Linked DNA regions of Homo sapiens. The protein of the gene in region 1 purifies or fractionates together with the protein of each later gene. This does not show direct contact. Each region holds a gene or a part of one and is shown in the gene's direction. Other genes may lie near its edges.

Region 1 (3,287 bases):
TTCCTCCACGCTTCTGGTGCCAATCTCCCCTGCTGCGCCCACCCTGGGTCCCTAGCCTGGGCTCCAAACCAACTCCGAGCTAGGGAAGCTCCGAGCCAGGGTGCTTCTAGAGTGTCCGGCCCACCCCTCCGCTTCATTTCCCAAGACAGTGAGGGCGGGGCTAGAGGCCAGGTGCGGAGGTGCGGGACAGGAGCCAAGCTGGGTCGTAGTGGGATCCACCTGTGCGTGATACGTAACAGAAGGGAGAGGCGAGGCGCGGGGAGGTCCGCAGGGATGTGGGAGACGCGACGGGGAGGACTGGGACGAAACAAACTAGGTCCGCAAGGGTATAAGGGGAGCAGCTCGGAGGGTTGGGGCGAGGCGGGGTCTACAGGGGTGTGGGGGGCTTGGCAGGGAGCGCTGGGGCGACGCGGAGCTCCGCAGCGTTGGCGGGGAGCGTTGTGGGGAGACGGGGTCTGCAGGAATGTGAGGGCGCGGTGGGGAGCGTAGCGGGGTATGCAAGGTTGTGAGGGTTGTGGATGGGAGGGCTGGGGCGAGGCGGGGTCCGCAGAGATGTGGGGGGCGCAGAGATGGGGGGGGTCCGCGGGCCCGCCGGGGACCGCGCAGCCTCGGGCTCTGTGCCCGGGGCCGCGCGGGTTAACTAGAGAAGGTGACGCGCGCCCCTGTTGCTCAGCCGCGGCGCGTGCCTTCCCTGCGGCGATCCTAATTGGCCCGACAGAAGCCCGCCCCCAGAAGCCCCTCCCACAGTAGGCAAGGCCCCGCGTGCCGCAACGCTCCCAGAGTTGCGCGTCAGCCTGGACTCAGCGCCTGCGCTACGAGGCTGGGCGGGGCGCGGCCGGATCGGTCGAGAGCGTCCTGGCTGATGACGGTCTCCCGTGCCCACGCCCCAAACGCAGTCTCTGGCCTGGATGTGCTCGGAGCCCACGAGGTGCAGAGGCTCGGACGGCGAAAGGGACCTGGCTGAGATCTGGGTCTTAAACCGCGGGCTCGGCCCAGCATCCCGGCAGCGTGCGCCCACAAGTGACACCCGGCCGGGCGCGGTCTGCGGGATCGCAGGCGCCGGGTCTCATCTCCAGTTCACACACGGGACGAAACGGGCCACCCCTACCAGCTCTGAGAGCATGCACCTCCAACTCCATCCCTCCCCACATGCCCGACCCCCCAACCCGTAACTCAGGCAGACACCTGGGCGTCCCCCTTCAGCGAATGCCCACACCGCGGGCAGGCCTGCCCCTCACCCCGCAGTCAGGGCGCCCTGCATCCTTCTTTGTAAAACCCATAGCTGTAGAGGGAGCGGAATGGTGGGGCAGGGCTGGGAGCCCAGCGGGAGTGAGTGGTGGGGAATGATGGTGGCCAAGGTCACACAAAGCAGTGAATTCACTTCATGTCACAGAACTGCTCAGGTTACGATAGTTACTTTTGTTATGTATTTTACCACAATTTTTAAAAAGCAAACCAAAACCAACCAAGAGTGCTTCCCCCACACCTCAAAATCATCCTGCAGCAGCTCCCTGGCCCAGCTCTCTCTCACCCTGACCCTGGGCCCCTCTCCCACCACCCAGGGCTAGCCCTGTGGACCAACCATCTCTGCCAGCCCCTCCCCGACCCTCCAGCCAGGGAGGTGGGGCGCTGGCCGGTGAATGGGGCAGGCCAGGCCCAAAGGCTGGCCCAGGGCTCACCAGCTCTGGACTGGGCGTCCCGTCTGAGGTGGGGATGACCAACATGCCAGCTCTGGGTTTTAGCTGAGGATGGGCACATCAAGCACTGACAGCCAGCAAGCTGGGCACAGGCGATGCTCAACCTCTAACACATCGGCTGAGAACCTCACCTGCCTCTCCCTGCCTGGGAGCCCTGGCAAGACAGCTCCTCTCCCAGGCCCAGCACAGGCAGGCGCTGGACAGCCACTTCCTAAGGGGTGCGCGGCCGTCAAGGCAGAGGTGGGTATCCCTGCACCTCACACCTCTCAGGAGGTCAGGATCCACATCCGTCGCCTGCTTTCCTGGGCTGCCCCTGGGGCTTGTGGGCTGAGATCAACCCCTTGTGCCCTGCCCCAGGCCCTCCCTCAGGCGAGGCCCTGCCCAGGCAGGTGGTTCTTCCCTGGCTGTTCCCTTCCAACAGGTGGGGCCCAGACCATCCTATCTCTTTGGACCTGGAGACATTTCCTTAACTGGGCTTTGCAGCAGAGGGAAGAGAACAGTGGCAGAGCCAGGCGCGTACCTCCTGTGCCCAGGACAGCACCTGTAAGCAAGGGGGAAGGGAGCCACCCACCCCAGAACTCAAATGGAGAGAAAGTCAAGACAATCACCCCTGACGTGGGGCTGCACCAATCCCTGACGTCTGACCCCACTGTGGCTGTCCTCAGAGCCAAGAGGGCTCCAGAAGCCCACCCGCCTCGAAGCTGTTCAGGGAGCCTCACGGCCCGTGTTTGCCACATGGGTGTGTGCCAGGGCCAAGGGGACACAGAAGATGGCAGGATGACACTAATGGGGTGAGCAGGGCACACTGGTGCCTCCCATACTGCCCTCCAGCACCAGGCAGGGTCACCACAGCCGGCAAGCACTGGGCCTGGGGATGTGTGAAGAGATAGGGTTATTGAGAAGAGAAAACAGAACGCTGGTCATCCGTGGCACTCAGGGCTAGGCAGTCCAGGGAGCAGAAAACAGGGGTCCCGGGCCCAGTCTCCCTCCTGGAGGTCAGAGCGGAGCCCCTGGCACTGTGCCCTGGCCCAGAACCAGGCTGTGGGCTCCACGCTGCACACCCCAACTCAGGAGCAGAAAGCAAACCCCTGACTGTCCACACTCCCTGTGACTGGTCCCCTTCCTGCCGGCTCTTCACCCCCAGCCCATGGTGGCTTCACCCCATGGCACCAGCCACTGACTGCCTGCCCCTCCCTCCCATAGTGACACTTTCCTGGGGTCTGCAGGTCTCCGGTCCACTTCATGCAGACAGGCCCTGTCCCCCACTGGGGCCCAAGGCCCAGGCTAAACTACAGCCCAGCCATCCCACCCCAGGCCGTGAATGCCTTCTCCAGGAGGGCAACCAAGGATGGTGCCACATGTGAGCACAAGCAAAACCCGGAGCCAAGGCGAGTCCTGCTGGGTGCACGTTTATCCCAGCCACCGCCTCCAGGGCGGCCGCACAGGCCCTGGGCATCAATCCAGCAGGGCTCCCGACTCACTCCCTGGAGACCAGCTCCCCAACCACCCGGCCCTGATGGCATCCCGCTGCGGCCAGGTGTCCTCTCAGCCGAGGTCCTTGTCACTGCCTAGCTGCGTCCGCCTGCCACA
Region 2 (3,645 bases), on another chromosome or scaffold:
GATGTGTCAGGGCCCCTTCCTTCCTTAGTTTTAGGTTACATGGTGTCCTTTACTCCTTCACCTCTTCCCAGGTACTTCCATTCATTGGAATACCAGGCTTCTGGTGTTGCCAATCTGAGAGTTACTTTTGACCATGGAAACCTAGCATGGTTGGAACTTCTATGGTGTAATTTTTGATTGCCTTTCAACTATGAGAGGAAAGGGCTTTATGCTGTAGGCAGTGGTCCTTAAAGTGTGGACTGTGGCCCAGCAGCATGAATATCACCTGGGAACTTGCTAGAAATGCACATTCTTGGACCCTACACCAGACTTACTAAATCAGAAGCTCTGGAGGTTGGGGTGGGACTGGCAATCTGTATTTTAGCAAGCTCTCAACGTGATTTGAAGTCATGCTTAGGTTTAAGAACCACTATTGTAAGATAAAACAATTTTCCTTGTGTTCCAACTGAGGCACCTAGGATAGGAACTTGTCGCATTTTTTTTCCCCTTGCATTTTACTTAGGGCCATAAAAAGTAACCAACACATTTTACCACCTGATATTCCTTATTCCCTCCTCACTGATCAAAGGCAGTACCTAGAAAGCCCTTTAAAGACTTGCCATTTTTGGGCTTAGAGTCTGAGTCTCAAAAACCTGTAAGCCATAGTTTAATTAGCTCCTTCACTCTTGCATATAACAGTTTATTTGTATTTCACTCCCAGATGTGGGGGGATGTCTAGAGTCGTCTATTGTGCTGTACGCCAGAACCAATTCCGCACACCAGACATTCTCTCCAAGGGTCCATTCTTTACAACATCAGTCCTGTTACCAATTTCTATCCTAGTCATGTACAGTTGGTTGCATGGAATAAAGATCTACTTGAGTAAGGTCAGATAAAGGGATGAGGGATATTGTGGACAGAAACACATGGAATTACATGGTAATCTAGGAATAAAAGCAATGCTGTGTTATGGTTATGTGCACAGTCACTGGAACCAGGTCAATTGGGACCAAAGCTACCAGTTACCAGTTGTGGGACTGTAGACAAATTATTCAACCTTTCTGTGCCTCAGTTTCTTATCTATAAATAGTGATCCTCTTGGTTTCATAGGATTATTGTCTGGATTCACGAGTTAATAAGTATAGAATGAATACTACTAACTACTTAACTCATAGTAAATGTTATGTCTGTGTTTACTATCATCACCATCATTACTACTAATAGTGTTAGGACGGGCTCCTTGATATGCAGTTGGAAGGTGGTTCCACATTCAAGGCAGCTTAAAGGAGCTCAGTCAGCATCAGCAAATGATGGATGCTCCTTCCTTAGTCTCCCTGTTAACATGACTTAGCCTGGCTGCTTTGCACCATCCTCCTACCAAATAACCTCCTCTGCTTCCTCAAACATCTACTCCCTCCCACCTGAGTATGCCTCAGGCCTGCCTTGATCCCCACTGTCTATCTTTTTTTTTTTTTTTCTTGAAACAGGGTCTCATTCTGTTGCCCAGGCTAGAGTGCAGTGGCACAATCTCGGCTCACTGCAACTACCTCCTCCTGGATTCAAGCGATTCTCCTGCCTCAGCCTCCTGAGTAGCTGGGACCACAGGCGGGTGCTATCACGCCCAGCTAATTGGAATAAAATCATTTCTTAAACAATATGGTTCCTGGAGGAGAGACACTGGAAACTTTCTTTCTTTTTTTTTTTTTTTTTTAAACAGAGTCTCACCCTGTCACCTAGACTGGAGTGCAGTGGCATGATCATAGCTTATTGCGGCCTCAAACTCTTGGGTTCAAGTGATCCTCCCACCTCAGCTTCCCAAGTAGCTGGGACTACAGGCACACACCACCATGCCAGGCTGATTTTTTTTATTTTTATTTTTGGTAAAGATGAGGTCTTGCTATGTTGCCCATGCTGGTCTCAATCTCCTGAGCTAAAGCAGTCCTTCCGAAGTGCTAAGATTATAGGCATAAGCCAGCACACTTGCCTCCCACTGTACATCTTAACAGCCTGTCACCTTCGGCTTTGGCTACTAACTGGCAATGACTTTCTGTATTATTTAGTCCAAGTTGCCAGGAGAGAGATAGAGTTGAGTCCAGTTCATCTTTCCCACCAGATGATGAGCCCGAGTTCAGTGTAGGGATTTGTAACCCTTGGGGCAGGTGCTGGCCCCTGGTCCGACTAGAAGAGGATCAAACATGCAATTGTCCCCAGCAGGTGCTGCAGGTGGATTCCCTTAGAACAGGATGGCGGAAGAGCCACACCAAGACCAACATCTTGATTACAGTAGCATACAGTAGTGTCAAATCTGCCTCCCTTAAAGTTTTTTGATGACCACTCCCTTCCCCAAACATGCATTGGCACACAGATGATGAAGACTGGGAAACCCCAAAGTCGACTTGGGAACAGTGTGTGGCCAGCATGGGTCTAACCTGTTCATCAAAGTGGGGCCATGGAATGGTAGGTTTTCTTATTATGTTTTTTATGAAATGTGCTTATCATTTTTCTTAGTTTTAATTTTCTATCTTGATGAAATGCTAATTTTTACATGATCACAAAAACAAATAGAACTGTGACATTCATTTTTCAGTTTCAGTAGCTGATTTTCATGTTGGTTGGATTGTCTGTTCAATAGCTACACATAGTGCTTTCCTTAGAGAAGTTACTAGGGGGATGTGGCCCTATTTCCATCCCACCACCCTGGTCAATGCTGTTATGCAGGGGTCAGCAAACTCTTTCTGTAAAGGGCCAGATCATCAATATTTTCGGCTTTGCAGGCTGCATACAGTCTCTATCACAACTGCTCAATTCTGCTGCTGTAGTGTGAACACAGCCATGGACAATACATAAATGAGCAGGTAGGGCTGTGTTCCATTAAAATGTTATGGACACCGAAATGTGAATTCCCTGTAATTTTCACTTGTCATGAGTTATTCTTTTTTTGATTCTTTTCAACCATTTTAAAATGCAAAAGCTATTCTTAGCTCATGGGCCGTTTGAAAAACAGGCAACAAGCCAGATTTGGCCCACAGGTGGTGGTTTGTTGACTCCTGCTATTATAGAAAGAATGAGAGTAAAACAAACCTTTCCCATACAGTCTGATGCTCATGGCAAGAGAGACGTGACCAAAAGCTGCCGTGGAAGTCCCAAAAAGAGGCACTACTCTCAGCCTGGGAGGATCTGGGAGGCTTCAGAGAGGTAATGCTTGAGCTGCATCTTGAAGCTGAGTGGAGAAGGCAGAGAAGGGAGTTCTAGAGAGAAGGCACAGCTTGTGCACAAGCAGGAAGTTGAGTAAGCCTGGGAGCCACAAGCAGCTCACCAGGCTGCGGAATGTCCAGAAACGAGTGTGCAGGTCCAGATGGTGAAGGGCTTAATGAGACGGGCAAAGGTGGTTGGATTTTATCCTGATGGTTGGTCCTCTAGACTTTCCAAACCTTGCCTTTAAAATAAATTATCAATCGGAAGCTCCCTATGAGAAAAAGGTTAGAAAATTATCATTAGGCAGGGAGCAGATGGCGCATGCCCATAATCCCAGCACCTTGGGTGGCCAAGACGGGTGGATCACTTGAGCCCAGGAGTTTTAAGACTAGCCTGGGCAACGTAGCAAGACCCCATCTCTACAAAAATAAAAATAAAAATCTTAGCCAGGTGTAGTGGCACATATTTGTA
Region 3 (4,342 bases), about 86 Mb from region 1:
GTGGTGCATGGTGCAGCAGTGCAGCTCCAGCCTAGGCCACGCCCTGTCTCTCTCTCCTCCCCCAGTCCCAAATTCCCAGGAATCCCAGCCCCACTGGCTAAACACCGGGGTGCAGTCACAGAGAGGATGGCCTCGGCCTGGGGGTAGGAGCTGTGCAGGGGGCCCCGTCTCCCACCACCAATGGCAGGGGTAAGAGCCATGCATGACCCCCTGGCCCCGAGTCCTTCACAGAGTGGGTGGGAGACGGCAGCACTGGAGATGAAGGCCAGAGCAGACTCCAGCAGCCGCGGTGGCAGGTGCAGAGGGAGGCGCAAGGGCGGACACGGGTCACCTCCTGCTGCAACCCTGCATGGGTGAAGCCAGGTGCAGACACCACCGGATGCCCACTGAATTCCGCCACAGTAACTCACGCCGTCACTCCCCACGGAGACCCCGCCCCACAATAACTCACGCCGTCACTCCCCACGGAGCCCCCGCCCCACAGCAGAATAATTCTGGCCTCATGGAAGTGGCTCCCACCTAAAAGATGACCCAGACCAGGTGCGGTGCTCACGCCTGTAATCCCAGCACTTCGGGAGGCCGAGTCGGGCGGATCACCTGAGGTCAGGAGTTCGAGACCAGCCTGGGCAACATGGTGAAACCCTGTCTCTACTAAAAAGACAAAAAAAATTAGCTGGGCATGGTGGCAGGTGCCTGTAATCCCAGCTACTCAGGAGGCTGAGGCAGGAGAATCACCCGAACCTGGGAGGCAAAGGTTGCCGTGAGCCGAGATCGCGCCACCGCACTCCAGACTTGGCAACAAAGCAAGACTCCTGCCTAAAAAAAAAAGAAAAAAAAAAAAAAGGCCCAGAATAAGGGTTAGGGAGGCAAGGGTCCCTGGGGACTCCATGGGGGTCAGGATGCAGAGACAGCTGTTGCTGCCCCTCCTCTGGGCCCAGGACCCCGCCCCAACCTGCCTCGGCCCTCTCATCCCATGCACCTGCTCTCGGTCTCTGCTCAGGCCCTGCCTCTCCTGGTCGGAAGCCACCTCTCCAGCCTGCTTGGTCCCTGGTACTAGAAGAAACCACTCCCGTGTTCCCACTTAGATCGAGTGTTCATGCAGTGTGGCGTTCGTGCCGTGTGGATGCTGCTGAGGTGTGAACCCTGTCACAGACCAAGGCTCCAGTGAGCCACAGCGTGGCCAGGCGGAAGCAGAAGAGACCGGTGACCCCCACTCAACTCAGCCTCTCCTTCCTCCAGGGAGAGTGTCCTGGAGGTACCTGTCCGAGTGACAGGGAAGGGGCGGGGCCGGGAGCCAAGGCTGGAAGCTCAGCCCCACTCAGCCTTTGCAAATGCTCTAGTGGGAGCAGCTGGCCTCAGGGGAGGGCTTAAAACTCCAGGAGAGCCTGGGCAGGTGCGGACGCGAGGGGAGTGGAGGGGAGGCCTCGCCTGGCCCACCTTCCTCCTGCCCCTCTACCATGTGGCCCTTCCCGAGCCGCTCTCTCTTCCCACCCCCGACTCAGGCCTGGCTCCAGACGGTCTCCTCAGACCCTGAGGCCCAGGGCTGGGGGGCCTGGAACGAGACCAAGGAGATTCTGGGGCCAGAGGGTGGGGAAGGGAAGGAGGAGAAAGAGGAGGAAGAGGATGCAGAGGAAGACCAGGATGGGGATGCAGGCTTTCTGCTGTCTCTGCTGGAGCAAGAGAACCTGGCTGAGTGCCCATTGCCTGACCAGGTAACAGCTGTGTGGAGGCCCTGGGGATCTCAGGGGACCTGGGGCACAGGGGCTGGTGGAGACACGGGGTCTGGGTGACGGATGGCTGCAGCTGACTTAGGAGGGGAGAGGGCCATTGCCCACCTGCCTGGACGAAGGTGGCAAGGAGACCCCCCGCCCCCAGCCACACAGACTGCAGGGTCAAGGTGGCCTCTCTCGCCTGGGGAAGGGCCCTTGAGGTGCGGTTTCGGGGGCTTCTCTGCAGGGGCGAGTTCATCCCCAGCCAGCTGCCCCAGGAAGGAGTGTCCCTGTCCAGAGAAGGGCTGCCCCTTGGGGCTGTGACCCTCTGCTGGAGCTGGCAGGCCACACACCCACCTTCCTTGAGCAGAGCCTGCAGGCTGCCTGCCCGGCTCAGGGCCGTGTGTCGGCAGGAGCTGGAGGCCATCAAGATGAAGGTGTGTGCCATGGAGCAGGCCGAGGGGACGCCACGGCCTCCAGGAGTGCAGCAACAGGCCGAGGAAGAGGAGGGCACCGCGGCCGGGCAGCTGCTGAGCCCTGAGACCGTGGGTAGGAACCAAGGGCACAGGCCGCCCCCCACTGAGCAAGGGTCCCACAGTTTCCATTAAGGTTGGGCCTGGCAGGCTCCAAGGTGTCACCTCCCCTATAAGCCTGGGCGACCTTCCCCGTGAGAGGAGTGAGGAAGGAACCAAGGGCCTGCGGGCCTGAGCTGTGTTCTCCGCAGGCTGCCCCCTCTCTGGGACCCCCGAGGAGAAGGTGGAGGCTGACCACAGATCCGTCTACGTGGGCAACGTGAGTGGTGGGCGGGGTGAAGGGGCAGGCAGCGAATGGGGCCCCATCTCTACCAGAGGGTCTGGCGCCCGGCCATGGGCCAGGCAGCCTTGCTGGGAAGGGGGTCTGACCCTGGGGGCAGCCCCGTCACCTTGAGGAAACACTGGCCTGGGCACATATTCCAGTTTTTCAACATGAGCTGGAATTCGGGGTTGCACATGAAATCTCCACTTTTGAGAAGCTTTTTAAAAGGCTCCAGCTCTCCAGAAGGAAGCGCTCCATACGAGATATCCTTTCCTCTCTTCCCTCCAACCCCAGCGGGGGTGTGGGGTGGAGGCCTGGGGCCATCCCCGCCACGGGGCCCAGCCTTGGGGTTTCTTTCCTCACCTCTAACAAGAAGGCCCCGAGTCAGGGCCAGGCGTCTCCCTCACATGCTGGTCTGGGCCTGGGTGCAGGTGGACTACGGGGGCTCCGCCGAGGAGCTGGAGGCCCACTTCAGCCGCTGTGGGGAGGTCCACCGAGTCACGATCCTGTGTGACAAGTTCTCTGGACACCCCAAGGGGTCAGTGTGGGGCCTGGTGGGGGCACTGGCCATGCGGACAGGGCCCAGCCTCACCCCTCCCCTCCCTGCCCCTCCCCTCAGTTATGCCTACATAGAGTTTGCCACCAAGGGCTCCGTGCAGGCCGCCGTGGAGCTGGACCAGAGCCTCTTCCGGGGCCGGGTCATCAAGGTGCGCCGGTGCTCCCCAGGTCCAGGAACATGAGCGCAGAGGGGCTGGCCCACTGGCCCTGGGACACACAGCAGCCCCAGCTGGCTCCTCTCTGCACAGCGTGTCTCAGGCACGGTGCTTGGCTGGGCCTGGACAGGATGTGGCGGGACCCTCGGACCTGAAGCTGGGTTTGGTCTGCCAGTGGCATGGTGGGGAAGTGTCCCCTCTCGGGCGGGAGCCCCCTCTGCAGGGGTGCTGGCCGTGACCCCCCCCTCTGCAGGGGTGCTGGCCGTGACCCCCCCCTCTGCAGGGGTGCTGGCCGTGACGGGGTGTCATATGACAGCTATGGTAGGCAAAGGCAGGGAACCCTGTAGGCCCGAATGGTATCCTGAGCCGGGCAGGACCCCATGCTCCGGGGTGGTGGGGGCTGCGGGGGCTGTGAGCTGGGTCTCGGCTGCTCCTTGAGGAGGACTCAAAACAGGCCTTTGCTCCAGGTGCTGCCGAAAAGAACCAACTTCCCTGGGATCAGCTCCACAGACCGCGGGGGCCTTCGAGGACACCCAGGCTCCAGGGGGGCACCCTTCCCCCACAGCGGCCTCCAGGGCAGGCCCCGGCTCAGACCACAAGGGCAGAACCGGTGAGTGGGTGCCTGTGGGGGCAGCCTGGGGGCGAGGGCCATGGTGGAGGGCATCAGGGGCAGGAGGGGGTCCCTGAGCTCGTTCCTCATGGGGCTGCAGGAATGTACCTGGCGGGGCCTGGGTGAGGGCTGTGGCTGCTGCATCAGCTGGTGGGGGGGGCGCTTTTTGTAGCCTCTCTGCTGGGAGAGGTGACCCCTTCTTGTTCCCACAAAGGCCCCAGGGTGGGCTACAGCTGCCCCAAGGGGCTCTCCTGGCACTGCCTTTCCTTTTCGTGGGACCCTCCCAAGAGAGCAGCTGGGAGTCACCAGAAAGGCCCCTGGGGCATTGCCTGAGCAGCCAGGTGACCTCCCTGCATCCTTATCCTGTTGTCCCCCGGGGCCCTGGGCCACCACCCCTTCTCCTCTGGAAGGCCACTCAGTGTGTGTTCTCTCTCCGTGCAGGGCCCGTGGAAAATTCTCACCATGGTTTTCACCGTATTAAAGGGAAGACCCGATTTTGAGAGAGGGGCTGGGGC

The links.
Region 2: the proteins of CEMP1 (region 1) and PLXNC1 purify together in Homo sapiens (affinity purification with mass spectrometry; one large-scale study listed by BioGRID and IntAct). This does not show direct contact.
Region 3: the proteins of CEMP1 (region 1) and PABPN1L purify together in Homo sapiens (affinity purification with mass spectrometry; one large-scale study listed by BioGRID and IntAct). This does not show direct contact.

Annotation. Positions count from the first base shown.
Region 1 is NC_000016.10:2,529,535-2,532,821, reverse strand, and holds CEMP1 (cementoblastoma-derived protein 1), read left to right. Parts: upstream 1-1,413; 5' UTR 1,414-1,748; coding exon 1,749-2,492; coding exon of another isoform or gene 2,493-2,565; 3' UTR 2,566-2,787; downstream 2,788-3,287. Other genes in the region: AMDHD2 (N-acetylglucosamine-6-phosphate deacetylase), read right to left, coding at 2,063-2,565. UniProt on the Homo sapiens protein: May play a role in development of the periodontium which surrounds and supports the teeth by promoting the differentiation of multi-potent cells from the periodontal ligament into cementoblasts to form the cementum.
Region 2 is NC_000012.12:94,155,037-94,158,681, forward strand, and holds part of PLXNC1 (plexin-C1 precursor), read left to right. Parts: intron 1-3,645.
Region 3 is NC_000016.10:88,863,722-88,868,063, reverse strand, and holds the start of PABPN1L (embryonic polyadenylate-binding protein 2), read left to right. Parts: upstream 1-1,403; 5' UTR 1,404-1,457; coding exon 1,458-1,712; intron 1,713-2,122; coding exon 2,123-2,258; intron 2,259-2,433; coding exon 2,434-2,501; intron 2,502-2,935; coding exon 2,936-3,042; intron 3,043-3,123; coding exon 3,124-3,211; intron 3,212-3,684; coding exon 3,685-3,827; intron 3,828-4,268; coding exon 4,269-4,308; coding exon of another isoform or gene 4,309-4,342. UniProt on the Homo sapiens protein: Binds the poly(A) tail of mRNA.